Linked DNA regions of Homo sapiens. The protein of the gene in region 4 purifies or fractionates together with the protein of the main gene of each other region. This does not show direct contact. Each region holds a gene or a part of one and is shown on either strand. Other genes may lie near its edges. The genes, in order: LRP5, FSD2, GOLPH3, CHSY3, CMTM6, RCN2 and RMND1.

Region 1 (3,968 bases), on a different chromosome or scaffold from region 4:
TAAATAAATAAATAAATAAATAAATAAATAAAAAAAATAAAATAAAATAAAATAAAATAAAATAGCAAATGGACCAAGTCCCTGGGAACTCGCGTTATTCTATCCAGTTAACCAAATGTGTCCAACACCCGGACAATGAGAAGAAGAGGAGGCAGCTTGGAGGGAGAGCTGACCACACCCAGGTGGAAGAAATGACAGAAGACGCTCTGTTCCCTGCCCCACCCAGAAAAATTTCACAGTGTCCTTACTCAGTCTCAAGGATTCAGTGTTCGGTTTTTTTGGGATAGGGTCTCTTTGTCACTACCACCCCTGGCCCTTTTTTTTTTTTGAGACGGAGTCTCACTCTATTGCCTAGGCTGGAGTGCAGTGGCGTAATTTTGGCTCACTGCAACTTCCGCCTCCCAGGTTCAAGTAATTCTCCCACCTCAGCCTCCCCAGTAGCTGGGAATACAGGCGCCTGCCACCACACCCAGCTAATTTTTGTATTTTTAGTAGAGACGGGATTTCACTATGTTGGGCAGGCTGGTCTCGAACTCCCAACCTCAAGTGATCAGCCCACCTTGGTCTCCCAAAGTGCTGGGATTATAGGCATGAGCCACCAAGCCCAGCCTGGTCCCTTTTTGTTTGTATTTTTTGTAGGGATGGGTTCTCACCATGTTGCCCAGGCTGGTCTCAAGTAATCCTCAGATGGTTACCATGGAGGGGAGGAAGGACTGTGGTCCCAGCTGTGGAGGCCCCTCCCCCAAGCCCTGGGACACAGCAAGGCAGTGGCAGGCAGAATCCTAAATGACCCCGTAATTTCCCACCCCAGTCCCCAGCACGGCGTCATGACCTTATGTGGCAGAAGGGATTCTGCAGATGTGATTAAGGTTATTAATCAGCCGACTTGGAGTCTATCAAAGGGGAGGCTAACCTAATCTAAAGGTGGCTGAGCCGAATCACAGGGCCCTTTAGAAGCAAATCAGAGAGACTCAAGGTGTGGGAGGGACTGACGCAGGGAGCCCCCACTGCTGAGGCAGAGAGGGCCACGGGGCAAGGACCTGTGGTGGCCTCTAGGAGCTGAGAGTGGTCCCCGACCAATAACCAGAGAGAAAACAGAACCTCGATCCCACAACTGCTACCTGCTGAGTGAGCAAGGAAGCTAATTTCTCCACAGAGCCTCCGCTGAGGGCCCAGCGTTCCTGACACCTTGATTCTGGCCCCGTGAGACCCTGAGCAGAGAACCCAGGTGAGCCACGCTGTGCCTGGACTTTGCCTTACAGAACTGAGAGACAATCCGTGGGTGTTGTCAGGCCAGTGGCTCACACCTATAATCCTAGCACTTTGGGAGGCCACAGCAGGCAGATAGCTTGTGCCCAGGAGTTGCAGACCAGCCTGGGCAACATGGGGAAACCCCGTCTCTACAAAAAAAAATTAGCCAGGTGTGGTGGTGCCCACCTGTAGTCCCAGCTACCTGGGAGGCTGAGGCAAGGTGTTCACTTAATTAAGCCCAGAGGTCGAGGCTGCAGTGAACTGTGTTTGCACCAGGGCACCCCAGCCTGGGCAACAGAGCAAGATCCTGACTCAAAAAAAAAAAAAAAAAAAGAGTTGGTGTTGTCTTAAAACGCTGTTCGTGGTGATTTGTTCTGCGGCAAAAGAAAACAACCTCAGAGGCCTCGGGACATTCGGACATGTCGCTGAACCCCAGCGGGCAACAGTTGGCATCTGGCAGAGACCACCGCCTGGCTGAGGCCACACAGGATCTTGCACTGGCCTCCAGCCTCCTCCAGGGGTCGGGTTTAGAGGCCACCCTGCCCACCCCACTGCCAGCCCCCACGTACAGAACTCCTCCAGGCTGACTTCCTCCACTGCATGGATGCCAGTGAGGTGGGCGACACGGCCCTGGATGCGAGTCCGCTTGTCCCCGGTGGTCTTCTCCACACGCTCGATCATCTGCTGCTGGCGGTCGATCCAGTAGAGATGCTTGCCAAGGATGGTCAGGCCCAGAGGCTGCACGATGTTGGCGTCCTCCAGGGTCAGGCGGTTGGCCCCTGCAAGCAGCCCGTGGGCCCCCCTGAGCAGTGCTGACCTCCAGAACTTGCCCCACACTCAGCTTGGGAGGACAGAGGTTGACAGGACTGCCAGGGAGCCTGGGGGATTCCATGCTTTGGACAGGGGTGGGAGCTGCAGCAGAGTCCCTGGAAGCAGGCCGACCCAAGACAAGCCCTCGGAAAGCCCTGCTCCCACCTGGGCTGGGCTCGGGATGAAGGCCATCAGTTCCAACGGCGGGCCTCGGTCACTGGCCCCTGCAAGCATGGCCCCTCCCTTCACCCATCTACCTCATCATAAGAGGAAAAGCCATGGGGACCTGCGCCCCCTCTCTAAGCACCAACTCTCATTTCTCTCCAGCCCTCGCAGCCTAACACAGTCCAGAGCAGAGCAGCTTCTTGCGCAGGTGCTGGGGGCAGAGGCTAGGCTGCAGTCCTGCTCCATCTCCTGCTGTGGGGCCCCAAGCAGCTCGCTCACCCTCTCTGAGACTCATTTTCTGCCTCTGCCCTGTGGGGCTCACTCAGAACCCCAGCCTACAGCTGTCAGTGTGAGGACAAAACACGCTACACACAAAGCCCCTGGCGCGGCACTGGGCTCACGGCAGGTCTCGGACAATGTGGCAGCTGCTGCCATTACTGACAATGAAGGCCGGGTGTCTGCGGTTAGGGCAGGCCCCGGGGCGCGTACCTGACAGGTCACAGCTCTCAATGCGCTTCAGGTCCGCGTCCACCCAGAACAGCTTGCCCAGTGTGTTGTCCACCACCAGGGCCACAGGGCGGATGAGGCCGGTGGTGAAGAGGACCTCGCGCTCGGTGCCGTCCAGGGCTGCGCGTTCGATCTTGGCTGCCCGGTCCTGCATGTTGGTGAAGTACAGGTACCTGCGGGAGGGTGGCGGGTGAAGGACGGGTGTGGGGATGGCGTCTCCTCGGACAGCACGGAGCCCAGGGCACCCAGCTGGGCTGTGGAAAGCCCCTGCCTCTCAGGGCTGCCCGAGGCTGACAGGTCACATTCTATACTAGTTGAACAATGCTCTCCAAATTCCCGCTCACCCCAGAACCTCAGAATGTGAGCTTATTTGGAAGCAGGGTCTTTACAAATGTCATGAAGGATCAAGATACGACCACAATGGGTGAGGGTAGGCCCTAAATCCAACTGAAGTGTCCTTCAATGGTACAGAAGAGGCCACGCCATGTGCAGCCAGACAGAGAGACTGGAGTGACAGGACCACAAGTCAAGGGGTGCCTGGAGCCACCAGAAGCCCAAAGGTTCCCTCAGAGCCTTCAGAGGGCGCAGGGCCCTGCCCACACCTCGATCTCGGGCTTCAGCCCTCAGGAACTGTGAGAGAACAAGTGTCCATTACTCTCAGCCACCTGGCTTCTGGTAATTTCTGACAGCAGCCATGGGAAACAGGTGCAGGCCCCCCACAGCTGCTAAGGACCCCGGAGCCCTGGCTGTTGGGAGACCAGCTCGGCTGGCTCCTGCACAGCCGCCTTATAGACCCGGGGCTTCCGCCCACCGAGCCCCCCGTGTGCTGCAGAGGCCGCACCACTGTGGCCGTCACTCCTACCAATGAGGAAACTGAGTCTCCAAGAGGCTATGCCACCCGCCCAAGGTCACGTGGCCAGTAAGTGACAGAGTCAGGGCTCAATCTCTGGGCTCCCGGCCCAGGACCTGTGCTGGCTGTAGCTCCCGTCTTCATGCCAGCCCCCCAGCTATCTGAGGAAGGCCATCGCGCTCCTGTCCCCAAACGTTCCCGTGCTCAGTTTGGAGCCTGAGTTTCATGTCACATGGGTTTCGGTCTCCCTCTTTCCCTGGCTTTTCTCTCTGGAGACCTCAAGGTCCTGGGTGCCTTCCCACCAACCAGAAGCTCTGACGACCAACAGGTGGGAGCGTCGGGGGCCTCTGGGAGGAAGAAGCCCAGGAGCTCCCTGTGGTGGAAC
Region 2 (3,968 bases), on a different chromosome or scaffold from region 4:
TTGAGAAGGAGTCTCACTCTGTTGCCCAGGCTAGAGTGTAGTGGCGCCATCTCCGCCCCGCGGGTTCAAGCAATTCTTCTGCCTCAGCCTCCCGAGTAGCTGGGATTACAGGCACCCGCAACAGGCCCGGCTAATTTTTATATTTTTAGTAGAGATGGGGTTTCAGCATGTTGACCAAGCTGGTCTCAAACTCCTGACCTCAGGTGATCTGCCTGCCTCGGCTTCCCAAAGTGCTGTGATTACAGGCATGAGCCACCGTGCCTGGCCTCTTTCCTTGCTTTGTTTGTGCATTTTGTCCAATTCTTTGTTCAGAACGCCAAGAACTTGGACACCCTCCACTAGTAATTCCTGTCCCACCCTCATGACCTCTGGCTGCTCCAGCTCTGGCAGCCTAGGACCCAGGGACCATGCCCTCCCAGGGGACCGCGCCCTCTCCTGACCTCACCGTCCCAGGGGGCTCTTCTGCCTGCACCTGCCTGACCCCTCTTGCCCACACTCCTCTGGGTCCCCTCCCCATTAGGCTCCTCCCTCCTCACTCATTTGTAGGATTCCTTTTCCCTCGAGGCTGCCTCCGTGCCATATTCGGATTTGACCTGAATAACAGTGCACCTTCGGGAAGTTCACAGAACGCCCTTGTGAGCGGTTGACAAAGTACCTGGTGAAGTGAGTGTCGCTGGGTGACAGCTCCCTGGCGGGGGTTCTCCTTTCACTTCGTACAGCCGTAAGTCCGTCTTCAGAAATGGTCAGCCAGGGATGGCAAGTGTCCTTGTTTAGGCGAAAGTAGCTTCCTGTGGGAGGAGGAACACACAGAAGACCCGCAGCCAATCACTTGCTTTCTCCATGTGGGCGGTGGTCACCGGTTTAGCTTCGTGTGGGATACACCTAAGCCTGGACCTGGCCTAGTAATAGGCGTCCAGTTAACAAGGATGGCAATTGACACTCATCGGGCAGTCTTGTGTGCCTAGTATCCCCTTCAATCCTCACGACGACCCTTAGAAACAGGTGTCACTATTTCCATTTTGTAGATGAGGAAACAGAGGCACAAGGTGGTTAAGAAATCAGCTGGCAAATGATAGAACTTAAACTTGAACCCCAAGCCCCTCTGATTCCAGAGGCTGTGCTCTTTACCTCTAGCTGTAATGCCTGTGTATGGATAAGAATTTCTAACCTATTTGCCAAGGGAAATAGGAATTGAAGGACTTCTTAATGATCCATTTGACTTGCAATTAGGGCAGTATGGGACACCCCTGAACTCCTTCTGGCCTGACTTGCCACGTGTCCACATCTGTGCATATTCATCAATTTCCCAGTGAAGTCATAGCAGCACTGGGTCTGCCACAGAGTGGCCACTTTGGGTCCCAGAGACTTTGTGGGCTGGGGCACAGACCTATGGTGTGGACTGTAGCTGGCTCGCTCCTCACGCTGGGGCCCCCCATATTGAGGGCTCGCACATAGATAATGTAGCTCCGCCCCGGCTGCAGCTGCACCACGGACTCGCAGGTCGGGATGCCCACAACAGACCTGTACAAGGAAGCAGAGCTGCAGTCAGAATGGGGCTAGGACACCCAGGCCCAAGCACCAGGCATCCCTTTCAAAGCTGGAAGGTTTAACTCACTCTTGCGCTCCTGTCCTCTGACCCACATTTAACAGCAGCATAGCCAGGAGTGCTGGCTCCCCCTCTGCATTCCCTCCCACAGTCTCTGGTCTGCTTTTCTCACTTCATTGCTACTTCTTGTGTTTGTGGCTGTCTCCTCTCCAAGTCCCTCATTCTGGTTTCCCAGGCACCCAGCACTGTGCTTGGCATATGGTTAACACTGCATCATGGAGTGTGCATGCAGTAGAATCCAGTGTGTCTCTGTCCGTCTGTTAGGATCATAATGTCTCTGAGGTCAGGGGCTGAGTACCGCTATTCTTAGTACAGTACTGGGCCCATAGAAGGCCGTCAATTCAGCCAGGTGCAATGGCTCATGCCTGTAATTCCAGCACTTTGGGAGGCTGAGGCGGGTGGGTCACTTGAGGTCAGGAGTTCGAGATCAGCCTAGCCAACATGGTGAAACCCCGTCTCTACTAAAAATGCAAAAATTAACCGAGTGTGGTGGCAGGTGCCTGTAATTCCAGCTACTCAGGAGGCTGAGGCAGGAGAATTGCTTGAACCTGGGAGTTGGAGGTTGCAGTGAACCGAGATCATCACGCCACTGCACTCCTGGGCGACAGAGTGAGACTGTCTCAAAAAAAAAAAAAAAAAGGTCCTTGATTTATGTTTATGAGCAAACAATTCTGACTAGAGCTGAAAGTGTTAACTGCTGTTAACCCCCTAACAGCTGCCTATTGGAAATAATCCAATGTATTTAAATTGTACTATACAGAAATATAAGCTCATAATTGCCACTGTCTATATTGCTGCGGTTGCCAACCCCATGTCAGTCCAGTGGGCAAGAGAAGTCTTTAGGATGATGCCCATTTACCAATACAACACCCTCACCCAGATGAGGCCAAGTTGTCCAGGTTATCTTCAGGCTGCAGCTCTGGGCCAGAGGGGCACTTTTACTTATGCATTCAATAAATGTTAACTAAACTCCTTAGGTTCCAGGCACTGTATAGGGAGGCCCTCAGAAAAAACAAATGTAGTTCCTGCCCTCATAGAGCTTACAGTCTAGATGGGAAGAGCAGCATTCTTCAGGCAATCACTGGAAGGAATGTAAGATGGTAACCAAGACAAGTTGATAGTGTGCTGTAGTGTATAATGGTGGGGGCAGGATGGCTTTTGAGCAGAGCTCTGAAGAATGCTGAGGAGGTAACTGGATGAAAAAGGGACAGAGGAGTCTCCTACATAGGAGAAGCATGTGCCAAGGCCCTGTGGCAGGAAGGAGCATGAAAAGTAGGAGGAACTGAAACATGACCAATGTGGTGGGATCTTGAGAGGGAGGGGAGCTGGTGTGGGAGGAGCTGGAGAGGCAGGAAGGGGCCAGAGCCTGTGAAGGAGTTTTGCCTTTTCTTCAGCAATGGGTCGCCATGATTGGATTTGTACTGGAAGAATATGCACCAGCTCTCAGGTCATCTCTCAGGTTACTGACCAGCCCTCTGATGACCTCATCATTGTGAGTTGGTCCCAGGTGTCAAGTGCTCCTAAAGTATCAGCATAAATTGCAAAGGAAACCTGAACCATTAGGATGGCCAGAACCACTGGACACACTGCCCCACTCCTGAGTATCTCCAGAGTGGATTACCAAAGTCAGCCTCTGTGTGGCCATGGACACACAGATTCCACCTGGAACAGATGGATGGGTGGCATATGGCCACGTTTCAAGCCTGGCATTTAGCATAGAAGAATCTGCTTCCCTAACAATTGACACCAACACCTCTTCATTTCTCCAGCTCCAGGTCAGTGCACCCCTGTGTTCCACAGCAGGGGAGCCCCTGGTCCTGGTGGCTGGTGCTGGCCTGCCTGGGTGGTTCATCCCCTTTCACAAACTTCTGTAAACCAGAGGTAAACCTATGCTTCCTCCATCATAGGCTGCTGTAAACTCATAGGTTCTGCGAGCCCTTGTGGTCACTGAGTCCAACCCTTATCAATTTGTGAACCCCTCTAGCTCTCTGAGAATGAGGGGTGAACATGAGCTTCCAGACAGTCTTCTGTGATAGATGAAACATTCTTTGTACATTCAGCTGCAATCTCTTTTGTTTTCGCCTATGGCTTTCACCCTCACCTCTCTGAATTCTAGCTAGGTGGGTCTTTTAGTTCCTCCAGCAGCTCACTCCTGCCCCAGGGCCTGTGTTCATGCAGCCCCCTCCCCCCGAAGCACCCCTGCATTCGCTGTTCTTGGGGCTCAGTCTTTCCCATATGTTCAGGTCTCAGTTTAAACATCTTCTTTATCCAAAGTGGATCCTCACCTCCACCACCATTCTCTGTTTTATTACATTTCTTTTTCCTTCCTAGCACTGTATATTTTACACATTGGTTTGTTTTC
Region 3 (3,968 bases), about 98 Mb from region 4:
TAAAACATTATGAAATTTTTTTTGCAATTTTTTTTTTTTAAAGCTCATCAGCTATTGCTAGTGTTAGTGTATTTTATATATGGCCCAAGACAGTTCTTCCAGTGTGGCCCAGGGAAGCCAAAAGGTTGGACACCCTTGCTCTAAATGTTTAAGGTGAAGCATATTAACATGCTGTTTTTCGGTGATTGGGTCTTAAGAAGATAATCTAAATAATTTGTTGAAGTTTAACCATACTCACATAATTTAAACAATTTAAAGTTATTTGGCGGGTAATTGAAACCATGTGTTCTGTTTATTTTGCATCAAGAGTCACTCATTATACTTTGCTAGTCATGGCTAAGGTCCAGATGCTTGCTAGCTTATTGTGAGCATTTCTTCCTGATTTCAGCAACCACATGGGGAAATTTTTTCTCTTTTTTTTTAGGCAAGTCCAGAGAGTTGAGGGGTGGGGTTGAGACTACTGGGATTTTGTATTGCTTTAGGTTTTGGTTTTAGGGATTAGCCTATATATTTTTTCCTTTCATCACATCTTTAAAATTTTTTTTTTTAAGAGATGGAGGTCTCAAGATGTTGCCCAGGCTGCACTCAAACTCCTGGGCTCAAGTGATCCGCCCTGAGTAGCTGGGAATACAAGGTGCATGCCATCAAGCCAACTCATCATGTCTTTACACTCTAATAACCAGCCCTGTCAACTTATCTGTTGGTATGTTTTTCCCTTGGGAGGCTCGCCACCATGTTTTTAACCTATAGTACTCTTTTTAGGAGGCAGGAATTGCTGTCTTACCCTGAGCCCAGGCGTTTATGCTAACTCATTGCTTTAACTGATTTTTACTTCAGCATTTATCTTTTTAATGTCTGGATTCTCCTAAGAACTTTAAAAGCTAAACTTTACATTTAAGCAAATCATTAATGTTGGAAATATTTTATATATGTGAGCTAATAACCTTATGTGAATATACTTGTTAAACCAGTACCTAGAGCAAGAAACAGAAGCCCTAGCCCTCCACTTGAGTATCTTTCCAGTCACTACCCATTCCTCAGGGGTAACCACTGGCTTAATATTAGAATTCAGCATAGATTAATTTTGCCTAGTTTTTTGTACTTTGTGTCTGCTTTTTGTTCAATGTGAGATTCATCCATATCGTGTGAGATTGTCCTTTGTTCTTATTGTCTTACCAATTTATTTTTAACATGTTTATAATCTATAATATTTAAAAAATTACTTTGACATATTCTGAGTCAAGTCTCCCTCTCTTTTTTGCTGAACAGAAGGTTCAGTTTTTGAATAAGCAGATGGTCTGGCTTCAGATTACCTGTTAGGAGTGAGTCTAAAGTCATTGTGATTGATTTTTTTTTTTTTCTTTACACATTTCAGATTTTTTTTTTTTAACCAATGATATTTGTTTTTTGCTTTTATAAAACAGGGATGGCTAGTCCCCTCAGAAGATTTTCATGCTCACTTGGGCAGAGAATCAGTGCATAAGTATTTAAGTAACTCTTTAAAGACCACAGTAAGGATGGCAGATAGTTTACACCTAAATTCAACTGCCAAGTAATTAGCAGTATTTCTTTAATTGACCCAGTGTTTGAGGGGGAGGGACAGCAAAAGTGCCAGGTATTTTCCTTTCCCTGTGTGTGTTTATTCTATAGATGCTTTCCATAGAATATTTTCAGGATGCTTTATTGAGAATTACCACAAATAACTGGTGTCATATATGTTTGAATGTCTTCATTGGTGGCAAATCTTAGTCTTTTAAGGTTAGATTTAATTATTTTCAGTGGCCAAGTATAATTTGGAGTATGCCTATGGAACAGCAGAAGCAGAGAGAGGCTCTATAGTCCTGTCCAAAGTGTATTCTTTGGCTTTTACATATAATTTAAGCCTTCTGAGCTTCAGTGTTTTCATGTATAATGGAAAAGTAGTCATTCCATATGATGGTTCTGATTGTACTGCTGTGGATGTTTATTAACTCCTCCCCAGGTCTTCGCTTTATTTTGTATTACTTTAGGGTTTCCCCATAGTGTGTTGCCTGTTTTTGAGACAGGGTCTTTCTTTGTCACCCAGGCTGGAGTGCAGTGGTGCGATCTTGGCTCACTGCAGCCTCAACCTCTTGGGCTAAAGTGATCCTCCTGCCTCAGCTTCCCGAGGAGCTAGGACCACAGGCACACACCACCATGCCCAGCTAATTAAAAAAAAATTTTTTTTTTATAAAGACAGGGATTTCACCACATGGCTCAGGCTGGTCTTGAACTCCTGGGATCAAGTGATCCTCCCGCTTCAGTCTCCCAAAGTGCAGGTATTAGAGGCATGAGCCACCGCACCTGTTTTTTTTTTTGTTGTTGTGTTTTTTGGTTTTTGTTTTAAGACAGATTGTGCTGTGTCGCCAGGCTAGAGTACAGTGGCGAGATCATAGCTCACTGCAGCCTCGAACTCCTGGCCTCAAGTGATCCTCCCGCCTCAGCCTCCCAAAGTGTTGGGATTACTGCGACCGGCTCTAGGATGCACTCTTGAAGCATATTATTCCCCTGCTGTTTTGTCATGCAGCCAGACTTGTCCAATCATATGTTTTCTTTCAGGGCTTTGGATCTTGAGAGAATAACGAGCTGTAGGGTTTTTTGGAGACCTTTCCAGAGTCATGTCAGCGTGTGGATCAGACTGTTCTTTGGCATGGTTCTTTGAGCTGCTTTCTCTGGTCTGTTGGCACTGTTTTTTTCCAGTCTGATTTTCCAGTCATCTTTCAGTGTTGTGAGTTTCAACAGCCTTCCAGTAAAGTTGCTTTTTAAAGATAGCCAGAGTCAGTTACTAATGTTTCTAATGCTTGTAGACAAGAACTGTAATACAGTAACTTAACTCTATGTCTTGAAAAATAAGTAGGTACTTGAGGTAAATAATATGTAATGGGGTAAAATACTTAAGATTAACCAAAATGATAGAACTGACTTTTGTGTGGCTTTTACACAGGCTCCAAAGATGTTTTCCATTTTTGGAATAAGGTTCCCAAGGTCACTACTTTGAAGTATAATAGTGATGAAGATGTATAACTTAACAAAAATTGTTTTCCTTTCTATACGTGTGGTGATGTCCACCATCTCTACATATCAAATCTGTAAATCAGAAATTCAGTCAACAAGTATTCAGAATTTCCAGATGTGCTGAGTTTTAGTAATTTAAAATATAATAAAGGCTTCTGAGTTTTTAATGAATTTTCGTTGTTTCTAAGACAAATGATATTTCCTTCATATTTTTTGAAGTTTTGAATTTTTATCTATTTTTTTCAGGTGTTTAAACACAGGTATGAGATATACAGGATCTCAGAAATTACTTTTGAAGTTCATTAAACTATTTGATTGTACTTTTTTTCTTTTGAGACAGGGCCTAGCTTTGTCTTCCAGACTGGAGTGTGGTGGTGTGATCATGGCTCATTGCAACCTCGACCTCCTGAACTCAAGCAATCCTCCCTCCTCAGTCTCCTGAATAGCTGGGACTATAGGCGCACCCTATCATGCCCAGCTAATTAAAAAAAAAAATTTTTTTTTGTAGAGACGTGGTCTCACTATGTTGCCTAGTCTCGAACTCCTGGCCTCAAGCAATCTTCCCGCCTTGGCCTCCCAAAGTTCTGGGATTACAGGTGTGAGCCACCACGCCTGGTCTGCTTATTATACCTTTTCAACAAGATTTTATACTGTTGAAATTACTTTTTAGTGCTTTGGGATTCTTTTACAATATGGTCAAAATATTCACTAACTCATCTCATAAGTTATACTAATATTTGATATTTGTTAATTTTGGACTACCTGAGAGTTCTTGTATGGAGCATTTGAATTACGTTTTAGAATTGTATTTTGAAGGCTGGGTGCGGTGGCTCACACCTGTAATCCCAGTACTTTGGGAAGCCGAGGTGGATGGATCACCTGAGGTCAGGAGTTCAAGACAAGCCTGGCCAACATGGTGAACCCCTGTCTCTATT
Region 4 (4,423 bases):
TAATTATTTTTTACTCATAATTGGTTTAGTTCAGTGTTTTGCCATTAACTAAACTTCAGTCATATACAACCCGCACAGTTTTGGAGGATGTTTGAATCAAACCTGTCTTGAAATTTAATTTGGGAAGGCACCTTTTTAGAAAAAAGTTTGTCAAAAATTAGTGTAATTGGTTTCACTTGCAGTTTGTTAAGTTCAGAAAAAACGTTTAAAAATAAAATTTTGCAGCTAAAACAGTTGAGAAGCACTTGGTATTCCAAGTGATACATTGGAATAAGTAGAGAGTCACCTTCTTCATATTCCCAGTCAGCATCTTTACTACCATTTTTGATGAGCACAGCATCTGCAGTCATTATCTTGATCCCATGCCTTGCCCCGTGTATCTCAATGAGTTTCAGCTATTATTGGATTCTTAATTCAAAACACATTTCATTCTTAATAGAAATTGAAATAATATGTCATTTTAATGTTCTGAAGGACAATCTTTCAAAGTATTAAAACAAATGAAAGAAGTAGGTGCTGTTAATGCATTTTATAAATTCCCTGCAAAATGTGGCAAACTTCTGCCAGGAAACCTTTGTAATTTTGAGATATCCAAGGCAAGGAACTTAAAGTAGAGGAAGCTTTCTTCTTTGAGTCAATCCTAAATACCACTGTTAAAAATGTAATGAGACCATTCTTTATTTTTATATCCAATTATCAGTATTTTCTATTCCAACCTGCTCTAGAGTGACTTCCCTCCTTCCAATCCAAAGCCAAGAAATCTCTAGTTATTATGATTACACTAATTCCTTGTGCCAAAATGCAACAGTTTGGGTTTATTGTTTGGCTTTTTGTTCGTTTTTCTTGCATTATGTGAAAAGTACTATCCGAATCAGGAGGAAGCAATGAGGCTACGAGTAGAAAGGCATAAAATAAGGAAGGGCTGCCCCCCTTTGACCGGGAAGCAAGGAAATGTGGAAAACACAGAGAAACCTCATTCGGTACAACCCTGCTGCTTCCCTTGCGTTGCTCCCCATCTCAGCAACTGGCTGGACTGGAAAGATTCACTTCTCTGACCTAAAGAACTTTGATCCGCTGAGTTTAGAAATTCTCTGTCCAGAGCCGCCCACATTCCGGGAAAAAGACCGCGCCTCTTTTAAACTGACAAAAAAAGTTTTTTCTTGCTGTGGCTGCCTGTGGTTCTGGGAAGGACTTCCAGCCTCTGCTTATCACCGCGGCCAACAAAATGCACTGGAAAGGAACCAATACTAGTGTGTGCTAGTACAGTCTGCTGTTCCCAGGGGTCTGGCTTATTAGCGGGTGCTTTCCTCTTTTCCCCCACCACCAATTCCTTACAACATGCCCATCCTCTCAGGGTTTTATTGAGGTGTGGCGGGGGGATGGGGGACGGCTTGGTGCTGAACTGTAGCGGCTGGAAGGAGCAGCGCGCTGGCACGGTGGGGATGGCCAAGGACTCCCAGTATGTGGAGAGTTGAGCCAAAGGGAAGGGAACACATAGGAAAGGGTCCGGGACAGCGAAGACGATTCCTCAATCTGAGCAGTTCCAAAAGTGCGCTAGATCCAGTTTAAACAAAAGAGCAAGATCCAAAGCCAGAACACTGGATCTCCAGACTAGTTGTAGCTAGCATCCTCCGTCTTCCCTTCCTGAAGACCACGCCCCTCTGGACCGATTGGGGAAACTACCATCAGCAGGGGCTTTCAGAGGAGGGCAGAGTGGGAATGGCCTTTGGTTTAGCTCTAAGGTTCCTTTTCTAACCTCTCCGACGAGGTAAAGACTAAGGGACAAGCGCGAGGCGGCACCGAAAACAGCAAGTGAGGAAGGCGAATAAAGCCAGGCAGGTGTGAGGAGGGTCCAGATTGCAGAAGACGAGGAACGGGCTACGAATTGTGGGCGGATGCAAGGGGTGGGGAGGGCGGGCCAGGGCCTGTGGGAGCCCGAAGCACGTGCTGGCAGAGAAGCAGCGGAGGGGCTGGGCAGGGGCTAGGACCGGTTACAGAGAAAGGAGTCGGGGAGACTGGCAGGCTGGAAAGCCGGCGCAGGGAGGTCACCTTTGATGTAGACATCGTCGTCGGCGCGCATGAACCACTCATACTTGTCCAGGTAGTGGTCGTGCATGTACTTGATCATCATGAAGGACTTTTTCTGGGGAGGATAGGAGTCGTCCACACCCGGTAGCGCGATGACAGGCAGGGGTGGCGGGGGCTGGCCGGCGTTGGGGGGCTGCTGGCTGGAAAAGAACTCCACGCGGCCCGGGATGAAACGCGCCCAGGTCCGCTGCGCGGCCAGCGCGCGGCTGCCCAGGTACTTCTGCGCGGTCATCACCCCCACGTACAGGAAGTCCCGGGGTCGGGCGCTCGGGGCGGCAGCGCCCCCGTCCCCGCTGCCGTTGTGGCTACTCCCCGGCCGGCCGTCTCTCCGCTGCCCAGCCGCGCCCCCGTCCTCCTCCTCGGGCTCCCCCTCGGCCGCTGGAGCACCGGGAAGCCCCGTCGCGCCCTCAGGCTCGCGTCCTCGCCGCCGCTGCTGCAGCGGAGGTGGCTGCTGCCAGGGGCTGCTTCGAAAACTGGTGATCCCGGGTGCTGCCTCGGGCAGCGGTGGCCCCTGGAGATCCTGGCGCGCGGGGGGCGGCGACTGCTCCTGCCGTGGTCGGGACTGGGGCTGGGGGAGCGGCTGCTGAGCGCCGGCGCGGGGGCCAGCAGCAGAGCGACCGTAGTAGGAGCAGAGGCTGGAGCCACGTCTCTTCCTCTCGCTCAGCTCCGCCACCCTGGGGGCGATGAGCCAGGACGCGGCGGTGAAGCCCAGCACCAGCCCTAATGCCACGCTCATCCACGGGCGGCGAGAGCGCACAGCCATCGCGGCTGTCCCGGGCGCGGACGCTCGCTGGGCTGTCGCGGCGCGGCACGCGGTTTCCCCGGCTCACACCCGCCCCTCCTCCGCCTTTGCGCCCCCAGCCGCGGCCGCAGCCGGCCGCCTAGGCGCCGACACCGGCTGGAGGTCGAAGCGCCGCGGACGCCTCGACTGCCGCGGGCTGCAGCTGCCTGCCGGGCTCCCGCTCAGCTCTGGGCCGGGGCTCCGAGCAAGGGTCGGGAGTGAAACTTCTCCCGGCGGCGGCGGTGGCGGCAGCGGCGGCAGCAGCGGCAGCTGGAGGAGCTGCAGGAGGAGGAGGAGGAGCAGCGGCGGCGGCAACGCGTCCGCTCCTAGGCTGCCACCCTGTCAGTGGCGCGCCTGGGCCCTCCCTCCTCCCTCCTTCCCGAGCCCCCGCCCTCACTCCCGCCTCCCGCTCCCCCCGCCGCCGGGCTCCGAGCTGGCCCGGAGGAGGAGCCGCAGGCGGCACCGCTGCCAGCCGGAGAGAAGCGCGGGCCGCGGTATTTCCCCGTCACCCGCCCTTGGACGCCCCCCGTCCGCGCCTCAGTCCAGAGCCGGCCTCCTCTCCGGAAGGAAACGATCCCTGTCGGGCCGCCTCCGGCTTGCAGCGCCGACGCCCCCTCTTCCCTCCTCCCCCAGCTCTTGCTCTTCGTCCCATTTCCCGTCCCGTCCCGCCCCTCCGCTGGCCTCCCGACACTCGTGTCTGGGGGCTCTACTGGCCTCCTCCCGGCGCCTAGGCTCCGCTGACCTCATCGGCGGAGCTCGGGTCCGGGAGCCCCCAGCAAGTTCGTTGCTGTCCCACCGTGCTCTCCTCCCCCGGCCCACAGCCGGGTACGTCCTGGCGTGACCCTTACCACTCTGCCCCGCCCCAGGTCCGCCAGGGCGCCACTCTTCGCGTTTTCCGTCCTTTCCACGTTGTTCTTACCGCTGCCACTCCGCGCCTTCTCTCTCTAGTCGGTCACTTGTCAGGAAACCAAACGTCCCATCCCAGCACCTCTCCTCCCAGCCTAACTTCCCTCCTACCTGCATCGTCCACCAGCTCTCCTCAGTCCTTCACAGAAGCACCATTGTCGTTAGGGTCTCTCCTAAGAAAATCTCTGAGGGATTGGAAATACTTATCCTGAAAGGCTAAGGGAGTTGGTGGTGTGTGGGGGTTCAATCCCCAAAGAACGTAAAAATCCCATGTCCTCCACCTGTTGAGTTGGAAAATGTGGGGCTGCCTAATGGTCTCCCCCTCGGCTCTCCTGATGATATCTGTTCAAGAAATGAGAACTATGGTCTATTTTCAGTCTTGGTAGAAGATTGGCTCAGTGGGACTGGCAAATAGTGGAGAAATGGGCACACATTCACAGGGCCAATACCCTGAAGATCCAAACGAAAGAAATTCTTACCCCCACAAAATAAGTGAACTTAATCAAAAAATAAAATGGAGGATATGATTTTTATTCTTGCCTATGAACCGTTTTATTTTCTAAGGCAAAGACAGGAAAATTTTACCTCTCCAATGAGGGAGGAAAATTGTCCAGCAACAGAATCTCAAAAAAAGTTAAGCTGTATTGG
Region 5 (3,968 bases), on a different chromosome or scaffold from region 4:
ATCCCAGCACTCTGGGAGGCCAAGGCGGGCAGATCACTTGAGGCCTTCTGGCCAACCTGGTTCAAGACCAGCCTGGCCAACATGGCAAAACCCCATCTCTACTAAAAATAGAAAAATTAGCTGGGCATGGTGGCGCATGCCTGTAATCCCAGCTACTTGGGTGGCTGAAGCATGAGAATTGCTTGAACCCAGGAGGCAGAGGTTCCAGTGAGCCAAGATGGCGCTACTACACTCCAGCCTGGGTGACAAAGCGAGACTATCTCAAAAAAAAAAAAAAAAAAAGTGTGGACATTTACTAGCTCCCATCTCAAGTTAAAGGCCAACAAATTGGCACTACAAGCTATAGTCAATATGAAATTCTGTCGGCCAGATGCGATGGCTCACATCTGTAATCCCAGCACTTTAGGAAGCCAAGGCGGGAGGATTGCTTGGACTCAGGAGTTTGAGACCAGCCTGGGCAACATGGTGAAACCCCATCTCTACCAAAAAAAAAAGAAAAAAAATTCTCTGCCTACCCATCTCTGAGGCTACTAACCTTTGTAAGCTCCCACAGCATTATGCAATTGCTAGCTCAAAGTGTACTTGAACTAGCAACACTCCAACACTGTTCTACGTATAGGAAGATACAAATGATGGAGTAATAAGCTCAATGTACAAGAAACAATAATAACAATATATTTTATACCACATTAACTGAGCATTCATTATATGTAGGTTAGAAAATCTCAAGAAAATGTTCGAAGGAGCCGGAGAAGGATGAGTGGAAAAGCAGGACTCAAACCAGGCAGAGACACAAACAGAACCTGGATAGACAGAGGACATTCTAATTCTAGGTGGAGGATGAAAAAGAACATATTCATAAGGGCAAGAATTTGCATAGTAAATCCAAAAATGATAATAAGGCAACTGACCTAACTGGATGGGGATGAAGAAAAAAATGGTTTAGGAGTTGGGTGTGGTTGTGTGATGATCATGCAAGGGAATATGGATGTTTAGATGAAGGCAGGAGGGAACACCTGTCTGGTTTAGTAGGTTAGAAAACAGGAGGAACAGAGGATTGGGTGGGGCCTAAAGGAATTCTACAGTTCCGAGTGTAGGAGGGAAAAGAGCAACTAACTTCTTATCAGCAAGCCACAGGAAGTGTTTTTAAAAAAAGAAAACTCCTACACCGGGCGCGGTGGCTCACGCCTGTAATCCCAGCACTCTGGGAGGCCGAGGTGGGCGGATCACGAGGTCAGGAGATCAAGACCATCCTGGCTAACATGGTGAAACCCCGTCTCTACTAAAAATACAAAAAAAATTAGCCGGGCGTGGTGGCGGGCGCCTGTAGTCCCAGCTACTCGGGAGGCTGAGGCAGGAGAATGGCGTAAACCCAGGAGGCAGAGCTTTCAGTGAGCCGAGATCGCACCACTGCACTCCAGCCTGGGCAACAGCGAGACTCTGTCTCAAAAAAAAAAAAAAAAAAGAAAGAAAAAACTCCTTAAAAAGCAGCAAGTAAACATACTCCAAACTGTTACTCATACCGTGACACCTGGTAGTGTGAGGGGTGGGAAAGTGGTTTTATTTTAATATTTTTAGTTGATTTTTTTTTTTTTGGTAAGCAGACACTTTCTTGTATTAAAAAGAAAAAAGTGTAAAAGTTGGCCGGGCGCGGTGGCTCACGCCTGTAATCCCAGCACTTTGGGAGGCCAAGGCGGGTGGATCACGAGGTCAGGAATTTGAGACCAGCCTGGCCAACATAATGAAACCCCGTCTCTATCAAAAATACAAAAATTAGCCGGGCATGGTGGTGCACGCCTGTAGTCCCAGCTACTCAGGAGGCTGAGGCAGGAGAATTGCTTGAACCTGGGAGGCAGAGGTTGCAATGAGCCGAGACTGCACCACTGCACTCCAGCTTGGGTGACAGAGCGAGGCTTCGTCTCAAAAAAAAAAAAAAAAAGTGTAAAAGCTGAAGGAACAATTTCGAGAAATGAGTGGTCACCAGCATTAAATGCCAAAGTGGTCAAAAATAGGAAGAGAGAAAAAATGTCACTGAATTAGCTAAGAAATTCATGGTAAACATAACCCATAAGTAAAAAGGCTCAATTATTATTTTTTGGTAAACAGTTTTGTTCTTAATAGCATGAAGTCATCATACTAAATATTGCTTACTGAATATTAAGCTAAGTACTTAACAACTGTATACCCAATGTAACTCCTTCTAATGACATAAAATTTTACCCAAATATAATTAAGAGAATTATCAAGCTTTTAATGTCAGGAGGGCCCTTAGCGGATATAGTCTCCCACTCCCACGTTTACAAAGATGGAATTAAGCTACTGACAGGTTAAGCCCCAAGTTAGCTCGGCACAGACAAGAACCCAAGTCTCTGACTCCCACTCTGTACTTCCTCTCTCCCCATGAAATACTGTTTGTTAAATTCCTTTTACGAGTATGTATGTTTGTGTAGGTCTTCCCTGTAAGACTGGCTTTTTGAAGTTAAACCCACAGTTCTGTATATTTCCTTTAATGTATTAAATCATACATTAAAAACAATTTGCTAACATCAACAGATTTGGGAAGTCTCAGTGACTAAAACATGATCTTACAGTTCTGGTGATTTAAACACTGGATAATTACTATCCTGCCTCTATCTCTCCATTTCAGTTTCACTACCCCTTCTTTTTTTTTTTTTTTTTTCTGAGATGGAGTCTCGCTCTGTTGCCAGGCTGGAGTGCAGTGGCACGATCTTGGCTCACTGCAATCTCCACCTCCTGCCTCAGCCTCCTGAGTAGCTGGGATTACAGGTGCACGCCACAATACCCAGCTAATTTTTGTATTTTTAGTAGAGACGGGGTTTCACCATGTTGGCCAGGATGGTCTCTATCTCCTGACCTTGTGATCCGCTCACCTCGGCCTCCCAAAGTGCTGGGATTACAGGCATGAGCCACCGCACCCGGCCTCAGTTTCACTACCTTTTCTGAAATTTCAAGTGTTCCTTAAAACGGTCACTATATTAAATACGAATTCTCCATTAATTTAACAGTCTACTACTTATATTTTATAAAAAGAACTTTTAAATGTTTGCCATTAATTATAAAGCTCCATCTACAAAATGATATGAATTATAAATTAATGAACTTTACTATTAAAAACTTTGTAGTTATAAGTAAAGTTCAAATTTAAAAATCCATTGGTCTGAAGAAACAGGCCAGGCCTCCCTTGCCTTAGGCAAATATTTACTCTTACAAAGGTTCAGATATAATTTGCTGACATTACGGGATCTTCCTCAAGGTAAAAATAGAACATTTCAATTTACTATACATCAGTTTTCATATTTAAATAATGAAAAGAGCATCAATATAAGAAATGCTTCCAAGTAATCTGTTTCTTGGTACTTATAGGGTAACATTATTTATAATGTAATATATTGAAAAATCACTGGCGATTTCTAAAACTGCTTGCCAGATGAGCGACTAGAATTCCAGTACTGTGCAGCTATCAGGATAGTCAACTGACAGCATGGATACAATGTGGAGCTTGTTGCACAGAAAATTCCACATATTTAGGTCACTGCACCAGCGTATCAGCAAGCAATTAGGTTACCAAACGTCAATTCTCCCCTTAAAACAAAAACTCCCTCAAAAACATTCACAAAATAAAACATGAACATGTGGACAAATCTAAGGATAGTATAAACTGAAAAACTGCATAAAGTTAGGACTCCAGTAACTCCTTACACTAAATTCTCAACTGAGTATTTCTTCTTAAGCTCTGGAAGGGTGGATGGTAGTTGGGGGATGCTTAGGGTTTTAACAAAACTTAGGTCATATCTAAATGGCAGACACAGCTATGTTAACTTCAAGAGATAGAGAAGTTACGTTCTTTTATCTCTAATCTCCTCTGTGTACAGGCTCCACTCTCTATCCCTTCAATATTCAATTCAGTTCTGTAATAGCAAACCCCATGGAGCCTCAGAGGTTTGAAA
Region 6 (3,968 bases), on a different chromosome or scaffold from region 4:
TCCGGGTTTTCCAGAATCTCTTCTTCAGAGAGCTTTTTGTCACCATTCAAATCCATTTCATCAATTAGATGAAGCGCCTTCAAAATAAAACAAAAAAGTGTCAAGTGTAATAAGTATTTTCAGCAAGATGTTCACAATTTAATGTGATTTGACTTGTCAAAATCATCCAGGTGTACAAGTACTCATTATTGTTTAAGTATCTAAAAATGTTACACGTTGTAACCAGGTCCGTCTACTGCTTTTCCCATTATCTCCTTTCTTCATTTCTGCTGGGTTCTGTCTCTCTCCACTCAAATCCAATCCAGGATATATCAAGGCAATGAAAAATTATTATAACCTGTTTTGAGTCCCTGTAGGTAAATACAAACTATTATTCTATTCACTGTACTCTCAAATTAATACATGACACAATCTTAACTTCCTCGTCTCCCTGACAATCTAAACAGTTCGTAAATTCAAAACATAGTAATGCATCAATCCCAAATAACTCCATTACTTCTTTCTTTGGCTTAAGATTTTGAACTTCTTTTCCTATCAACAGCACCAAATTCGGGGGGAGGGGGTGGAGAGAAACAGTTGTTCTGTAACACTTACCTCCTCTTGTGCAATGCCCTGATTATTAGGTACTACCCAAGGTAACAGCTCTTGGGGATCAAGCCTGCCATCGTTATCTTTGTCATAATCATTCACGAATCTGTCTTTCTCAACAAGTATCCATTCTGGATCTTCATTTGCAGCTTAATATAAAAAAACACAAATATACATACACAAGAATATCACATGTATCCAATAAGAAGTTTGGTATATCCCTAGAATAAAGGAAGTGAATTTAAAGTTTACTAAAGAAAGCCCAATAAAACAGAACTACTTAACTGAAAAGTCCTGACATAAGAACAAATATATAGTCATTTTCAAAAGTGACACGAGTCTAAACAACCCAGTTTTAAAATCATTGGATGTTTTCACAAACTAGTAATTTTGTTAACTGCTATTTGTTCCGATATCTAGTTTTCCCAGATGTGAGGTGGGTAATGTTTTACTGTATATCATGTTTCTATACAAAGTTTCTTACATGTTTTCACAAAGTAATGCCATGTGTAATTTTAAAGTGACAATCAGAATAAGTAAAACTGGTGACCAATTTAAAAATGGCATTGTTTGGTGTCTTTAAGCAACAATTCTGAAAAAACAGCTGCTTATATAAAAGCAAACTCTTAATTTCAAACACTTATTCACCTTCTACTAAGCTTCTGATACTGTGTTTACACCAGTATTTGTAGTGTTTTATGTTTCTATCTCTTTTAAGATCCACCTGCAACAGCACAGGATTTTGTTTAAAAATATCTACCTTACTTCCTTCCCCATTTAAACTGATAATAAAATTAGATTTGTTTGAAAAGAAAGAAAAATGTTTGACTCTAGACACGGAAGTAAAAGTAAGCAAGACAGCGTTCTCAGATAAGCTATAAATCCATTTGTTGAACTTGTATTACAGTTAACGAAACAAGTAGGATCAGACACAGATCCTCATTACATTTCCTGTTGAAGAGAGCTTTCAATGAGCAAGGCTGTCTTTCAATGTCTTTCTTCAATTCCTTTTCTCTTTTCACATTCTCCCAGGTGACTTACTTGGATCCCACCTGTAATCACCAAGAAATTCTTCCAAACTAACAAATCCATCACCATTTTTGTCATGTTCTTCTAAAGCTTCTTGAATGACAAATTCCTATTCCACGTTCATTAAAAAAGAAAAAAAAAAGTTACAAAATGTTCAGTCCCACTGCCATCCGATTCAATTCTACTACAGAACTTCTTTAGAAATAAATGATAATTTTTGGAGCTCTAGTGGTGCAATCAGCTAGTAAGGTACTTATACAGGAAAAATCACTTTGGTTGTCCATATCTTCAAGACAATCCTTCTAAACACTGGAATTTAGAAGCAAGAATAAAACCTGAAGTACTATGTAGCTTTAAATTCAACATCCTTAAGCTTCTGATATTGTGAAGAACTCCACTTTCACTCTCATAAACAACCTCAGCGTTACTCTCATGCTATTTTCCGCACATCTCTCCCTCTCAAGAAAAGCATCTTATACTACCTTTGTCTTTAACTTCATTTGCCCTCCAATCCATGAACAACCCTAAAAGAGCCCTTACCTTAGAACTGCTGTTCTGCCTCCAGATCTAAAATGTACCAGCCCGCCATTATACCTCAATCTCCTTGCTTCCCCTTCAGCAAACCTAGCCCTATCCATCCCAAACTGCCCCCAAATCTGTTCCTCCCTCTTATCAAAGCTTCTTATCAAACAACCAATCCTTTTCCCTAAAGATGACCTGTTCAATGGCCAGCTGTTTCAGTACTTTCCTCAATATCTTCCTATCTCCTTTTTTTTTTCAGATGGGGTCTTGCTCTGTAGCCCAGGCTAGAGTACAATGGTATGATCTCAGCACACTACAACCTCTGCTTCCCGGGTTCAAGCAAATCTCCTGCCTCAGCCTCCAAAGCAGCTGGGACTACAGGCGTATGCCACCACACCCAGCTAACTTTTATATTTTTAGTAGAGACAGTGTTTTGCCATGTTGGCAAGGCTGATCTCAAACTCCTAACCTCGGATGATCTGCCAGCCTCAGCCTCCCAAAGTGCTGGGATTACAGGCGTAAGCCACTCCGCCTAGCCCTCCCCCTTCTTTTTTTTTTTAACATAGGATCTCATTCTGTCACCCAGGCTAGAGAGCAGTGGCACAATAATAGTGGCATCATAGGCTCCAACTACTGGACTCAAGTGATCCTCTCACCTCAGTCTCCCAAGTAGCTAGGACCACAGGTGCATGCCACCACACCTGGCTAACTTTTTTGTAGAGACAAGGTCTGCTATGTTGTCCAGGCTGGTCTTGAACTCCTAGCCTCAAGCTGTCCTCCTGCCTTGGCCTCCCAAAGTGCTGGGATTACAGGTGTGAGCCACCATGCCTGGCCCATCTCTGACTCTTGCCTTCCCTTAACACTTATTTAGTAAGTCAACATTCCTGCATATGCTTTCTTCAAAATGTTGCTCAAATCTATTTCATTCAATTGCCAGATAGAACTCTGGGCCGTATCACATTATGCCTAAATTATTTCATTGCTTTTACTGGTAATTCCCCTCTTTAGTCTTCAATTGTTCCTTATTCTCCAGAGAATCAAGATCTAGCATCCTTTGCCTGTCATTCTTGGGCTCAATTAGCTTTTCCCAACTTAATTTTGGTACTTAAATTACACCCAGCACTGTTCTTAAACTGGGTCATGTATTCTGTGCCAATGAGAAATTAGAAGCTTCACAATGGCAAGAGAAGTGGTATTAATGACAGTGTCTTACCACTGAGCTATGGAGAAAAATGTATCTGCAGCCTTGTTATGCAAGGCAGCAGGGTCTACCATGACACATTAAACAAAAAGATATATCTTCCTTCTTTGAAATATCCAGGGAACCAAGCCACGTAGCTGGAGGCTGATGTCATGCAACAGACTTCAATATAAATGTTTAGTCTCTTTTTTAAAAAGCTATTTGTTACATTAGTCTTTATTTCCCAGTGTGATGGTTTATGCTTTCAAGCTTGGCCAAGTCATAATAGGGACTCAATTTATGTTTGTTGAGTTAAACTTACAATTCAACAAAAGTTTTGAAAAACTGGTACTTATTTTAAATATTAAAGGGATGAGAGGACTCATTATACTTAAAATTGCAAAAACATTACTAGTTAACTAGCAGCTGCACCCCTACCAACCCTATGAAGAATCCAAACATGATGTTTTTCCAGACCAAAAGCTTTCATAAGTGATGTTGTAAATTAAACAGAAATCCTAATATTACTAACATTGAAAAACCAAAAAAAATCTGAAAGCTACAAAAGGATAAGGAAGGCACTGAAGGTAACACAGTTATGAGAGAAAATAGCCTGAGGAAGCCTGCTGTTCATACATAGTACAGAGAT
Region 7 (3,968 bases), on a different chromosome or scaffold from region 4:
TGTCATGTGCATAATATGATCCTATTTTACATAAAAAGCAGCATAAATATGTACATATATACACATAAAAAGTCTGGAAGGATATGCACCAAGTTTAATCATGGTTGCCTCTGGGGATTAGGATTTCAGTACAGAAGAGAGAAAGAGATGATCACCTCCCACACCTGTGTGGCTTAATTTTTTATTAGTATGTTGGGCTTTACTTTTTATTTTTTATTTATTTATTTTTTTGAGATAGGGTCTTGCTCTGTCACACCGGCTGACATTGGCTCACTGCAACCGCCACCTCCCAGGCTCAAGCCAGCCTCTCAGGTAGCTGGGACTACAGGTGTACATCACCACACCCAGATAATTTTTGTATTTTTTTGTAGAGACAGGATTTTGCCACGTTGCCCAGGCTGGTCTTGAACTTTTGAGCTCAAGGATCCACCCGCCTCTGCCTCCCAAAATGCTGGGATTATTAAAGAGATTTAAAGAATACAAATTATAATATTACTAGTGATTTTCCTTGGGTTGTGGGATAATGATAACCTTGATTTTCTTCTCCATTCTCATCTGTGTTTTCCAAATGTAAAAACAAATGAACATGTCATCCTGATTACTTTAATATCACAATGGATTTGATTTGCCTTTTCCTTAAAAACATGCAACAGAAATAATGCCTGTAAGTGTAATGAAGACTGTTATAAGCATTAAAATCATAACATACTTGAACTGAGGGAGTCAGTTATGATTTCAGATTAATCTTCCTTTTCTTCTAGATGAAGCATGTGATGAAAGTTCTAGAAAAACATGAAATTCAGCCCTATGAAATCGCACTGGTACACTGGGAAAATGAAGAACTTAACTACATAAAAATAGAGTAAGCAACTTTTCATCAAATTTATGAAAGGGGCACTTGGAATAAATTAGGTAAAGCAATAGAGGAGACAAATTATTATGCATATGGAAACTTTTTTTTTTTTTTTGAGACGGAGTCTCACTCTGTCGCCCAGGATGGAGTGCAGTGGCACAATCTCGGCTCACTGCAACCTCTGCCTCCCGGGTTCAAGCAATTCTCCTGCCTCAGCCTCCTGAGTAAGTGGGACTACAGGTGTGCACCACCACGCCCAGCTAATTTTTTGTATTTTTAGTAGAGACAGGGTTTCACCATGTTGGCCAGGATGGTCTGGATCTCGACCTGGTGATCCGCCCACCTCAGCCTCTCAAAGTGCTGGGATTACAGGCGTGAGCCACTGGACCTGGCCTGGAAACTTACTTTTAAGAAAAAAGTGGCCAGGCGTGGTAGCTCACACCTGTAATCCCAGCACTTTGGGAGGCTGAGGCAGGTGGATTACCTGAGGTCAGGAGTTCAGGACCAGCCTGGCCAACATGGTGAAACCCCATCTCTACTAAAAAATACAAAAATTAGCTGGTTATGGTGGCGGGTGCTTGTAATCCCAGCTACTCGGGAGGCTGAGACAGGAGAATTGCTTGAACCTGGGAGGCGGAGGTTGCAGTGAGCCGAGATCACGCCATTGCACTCCAGCCAGGGTGACAAGAGTGAAACTCCGTCTCAAAAAAAAAGAGGAAAAAGATTACTGGTACAAATACAAAGTCTAAACCATATAATAAATATTAGAAGATAAACATAATTTTTTGAACTTCTCAGGCTATCCACAAGTTAAAACAAGTCAGTAGTATAGCCCCAAAATGGAAATGTTAAGTTTCTAATCAGCCTAATCCAATAAAATAGTATGCATTTATCAAATGAACCTATCAAATTATTCCAGTAAATTTTTCTCTTAATCCAGTTTTTTCCTATTGATTTTGGGGGGTGGGGGTATGAAAAGGAAGTATAGTGAGGGGTCAATCTAAGAGACCCACTTGTAGAAGTGTGGGTGCTGGAAGAAGTGGGACCTGGTGTACCAGTTTCACTAAGATAAATGGGTAGGCAACAGACTAGCTGATTTTCCTGACTCAGCCAGAGGGAAAAAATGAAGAGATGTTAGGGCCGAGACAGAGGCAGTATGAACAAGATGGTAGTGTCTTTTTCCTCATGGAGTTACCTGTCTAGTGAAATATGAGTCTTTGCAGGTTCTTAAGAAAGGTAGTGTTAGCCAGATTTGGTGGCTCACACCTGTAATCTCAGCACTTTGGGAGGCCAGGGTGGGAGGATCAACTGAGTCAGGAGTTCAAGACAGCTTGGCCAACATGGCGAAACCCCATCTCTACTAAAAATACAAAAATTACCCGGGCATAGTGGCGAGTGTCTGTGATCCCAGCTACTTGGGAGGCGGAGGCGGAGGCAGAGAATTGCTTGAACCTGGGAGGCAGAGGTTGCCATGACCTGAGATCGCACCACTGCACTCCAGCCTGTGCAACAGAGTGAGACTCTGTCTCAAAAAAAAAAAAAAAGCGTTAAAAGCAGAGCTTTGGGAAGACTTGGAAGAGAGACAGAGACTAGCTATAGAAAGACCAGATGGGGATAAGAGCTGAGTAATCAGCGCTCACCACCAATAGGGCCAGTCACGGTTTTCTAAGTAAGTGCCTTCCATGTATTATTTCATTTAATCCTGGGGAAAACCCTATAATTGCAGCTAACTGGCTTTCCGATGAGATTTATTGAATCCTGTCTTGCCAAAGGGCACCTGACTGTGAGTCAGCCTGAGCCCAGTGGTGGCTGCAGTCAGAGGTAAGGATATAAACCTGAGAGAGACAGCAAATGAGCAGCCTGTAGTTTTATTATCTTTAGTAGTTACTCAGCCCTTGGCCTGCAGATACAGCTCCTGTGAATCCCCTTTCTGTGTTCTATTAGGTTTACATTAAAATGGCAAAAACCGCGATTACTTTTGCACCAACCAAATACTTCCATATCCAACTACTGCTAGACCCTTGTGTGTGTGTGTGTGTACGCTTATCCACACACACACACACACGTTACTGTACAGTCTGTGAGGAGTAAAATCCTCAGTGCTTAGGATCCCAGAGTCAGTTATTTTGTTTCGTCAGAAAGACTGTCCTGGCTGCCACCTACATGGTTATTATGTGAGTTCTGCCATGATTCCAGGGATCTGCTCAGCTCTGTGGCATGGGCCCAGTTTACTCATAAAGCATCTTGTGACCAAGCACAGTGGCTCATGCCTGTAATCCCAACACTTTGAGAGGCCAAGGCGGGCAGATCACTTGAGGTCAGGAGTTCAAGACCAGCCTGGCCAACATGGTGAAGCCCTGTCTGTACTACAAATATAAAAATTAGCTGGATGTGGTGGTGCACTCCTGTAATCCCAGCTACTCAGGAGGCTGAGGCAGGAGAATCGCTGGAACCCAGGAGGCGGAGGTTGCAGTGAGCGAAGATCACGCCACTACACTCCAGTCTGGGTGACAGAGCAAGACTCCGTCTCAAAAAAAAAGACCTCTTGTGACTGCTGTCTTTGCTTTCCTTCCTCCATCTGAGGCTGTCATAGCAGATGCCGCCCTCCATCAGGCCCCTTGTCCCCCTCCCTTTGGCCGTCACTTCTTGTCTGACATCTTTTGTGAAGGTTTACCCTGTCTTTTTTCCATTTGCTTGTGATGTTTATATTCACACATTCCGCTCTTCCCCTGTCCCCTGTCTAGGATTCTCCACAGTCACATACTCATTTTTCACAACTTCCTTGCCTCCCTCCCCAACCCCATCATGTCAGTGTGATTTTAGATTACACTCCATATATAGTTTTATATGCAGCATTTTTTCACATAGAAATTTACTGTGAACGTTCTCCTTTTTATTAACTATCCTTCCAAAACACACTTTTAAGTTTTTCTTGTGTGGAGTGACTATTACTGAGCCAACCCCTACTGAACATTTGGTTTATTTCCTAATTTTTTACTCTTAAACACTGACCTTTTTTTTTTTTTTGGAGACAGAGTCTTGCTCAGTCTCCCAGGCTGGAGTGCAGTGGCGTGATTTCGGCTTACTGCAAGCTCCGCCTCCCGGGTTCACTCCA

The links.
Region 1: the proteins of CHSY3 (region 4) and LRP5 purify together in Homo sapiens (affinity purification with mass spectrometry; one large-scale study listed by BioGRID and IntAct). This does not show direct contact.
Region 2: the proteins of CHSY3 (region 4) and FSD2 purify together in Homo sapiens (co-immunoprecipitation; one large-scale study listed by IntAct). This does not show direct contact.
Region 3: the proteins of CHSY3 (region 4) and GOLPH3 purify together in Homo sapiens (affinity purification with mass spectrometry; 2 studies listed by BioGRID and IntAct, with this or other methods). This does not show direct contact.
Region 5: the proteins of CHSY3 (region 4) and CMTM6 purify together in Homo sapiens (affinity purification with mass spectrometry; one large-scale study listed by BioGRID and IntAct). This does not show direct contact.
Region 6: the proteins of CHSY3 (region 4) and RCN2 purify together in Homo sapiens (affinity purification with mass spectrometry; one large-scale study listed by BioGRID and IntAct). This does not show direct contact.
Region 7: the proteins of CHSY3 (region 4) and RMND1 purify together in Homo sapiens (affinity purification with mass spectrometry; 2 studies listed by BioGRID and IntAct, with this or other methods). This does not show direct contact.

The regions. Positions count from the first base shown.
Region 1 is NC_000011.10:68,424,040-68,428,007, reverse strand, and holds part of LRP5 (low-density lipoprotein receptor-related protein 5 isoform 1 precursor), read right to left. Parts: intron 2,907-3,968; coding exon 2,716-2,906; intron 2,031-2,715; coding exon 1,821-2,030; intron 1-1,820. UniProt on the Homo sapiens protein: Acts as a coreceptor with members of the frizzled family of seven-transmembrane spanning receptors to transduce signal by Wnt proteins.
Region 2 is NC_000015.10:82,764,511-82,768,478, forward strand, and holds part of FSD2 (fibronectin type III and SPRY domain-containing protein 2), read right to left. Parts: intron 1,522-3,968; coding exon 1,388-1,521; intron 789-1,387; coding exon 656-788; intron 1-655.
Region 3 is NC_000005.10:32,167,352-32,171,319, reverse strand, and holds part of GOLPH3 (Golgi phosphoprotein 3), read left to right. Parts: intron 1-3,968. UniProt on the Homo sapiens protein: Phosphatidylinositol-4-phosphate-binding protein that links Golgi membranes to the cytoskeleton and may participate in the tensile force required for vesicle budding from the Golgi.
Region 4 is NC_000005.10:129,903,258-129,907,680, reverse strand, and holds the start of CHSY3 (chondroitin sulfate synthase 3), read right to left. Parts: upstream 3,217-4,423; 5' UTR 2,852-3,216; coding exon 2,050-2,851; intron 1,840-2,049; exon of another isoform or gene 1,754-1,839; intron 1-1,753. UniProt on the Homo sapiens protein: Has both beta-1,3-glucuronic acid and beta-1,4-N-acetylgalactosamine transferase activity. Transfers glucuronic acid (GlcUA) from UDP-GlcUA and N-acetylgalactosamine (GalNAc) from UDP-GalNAc to the non-reducing end of the elongating chondroitin polymer.
Region 5 is NC_000003.12:32,495,936-32,499,903, forward strand, and holds part of CMTM6 (CKLF-like MARVEL transmembrane domain-containing protein 6), read right to left. Parts: intron 1-3,968. UniProt on the Homo sapiens protein: Master regulator of recycling and plasma membrane expression of PD-L1/CD274, an immune inhibitory ligand critical for immune tolerance to self and antitumor immunity.
Region 6 is NC_000015.10:76,945,179-76,949,146, reverse strand, and holds part of RCN2 (reticulocalbin-2 isoform a precursor), read right to left. Parts: intron 1,727-3,968; coding exon 1,630-1,726; intron 738-1,629; coding exon 595-737; intron 78-594; coding exon 1-77.
Region 7 is NC_000006.12:151,424,376-151,428,343, reverse strand, and holds part of RMND1 (required for meiotic nuclear division protein 1 homolog), read left to right. Parts: intron 1-761; coding exon 762-862; intron 863-3,968. UniProt on the Homo sapiens protein: Required for mitochondrial translation, possibly by coordinating the assembly or maintenance of the mitochondrial ribosome.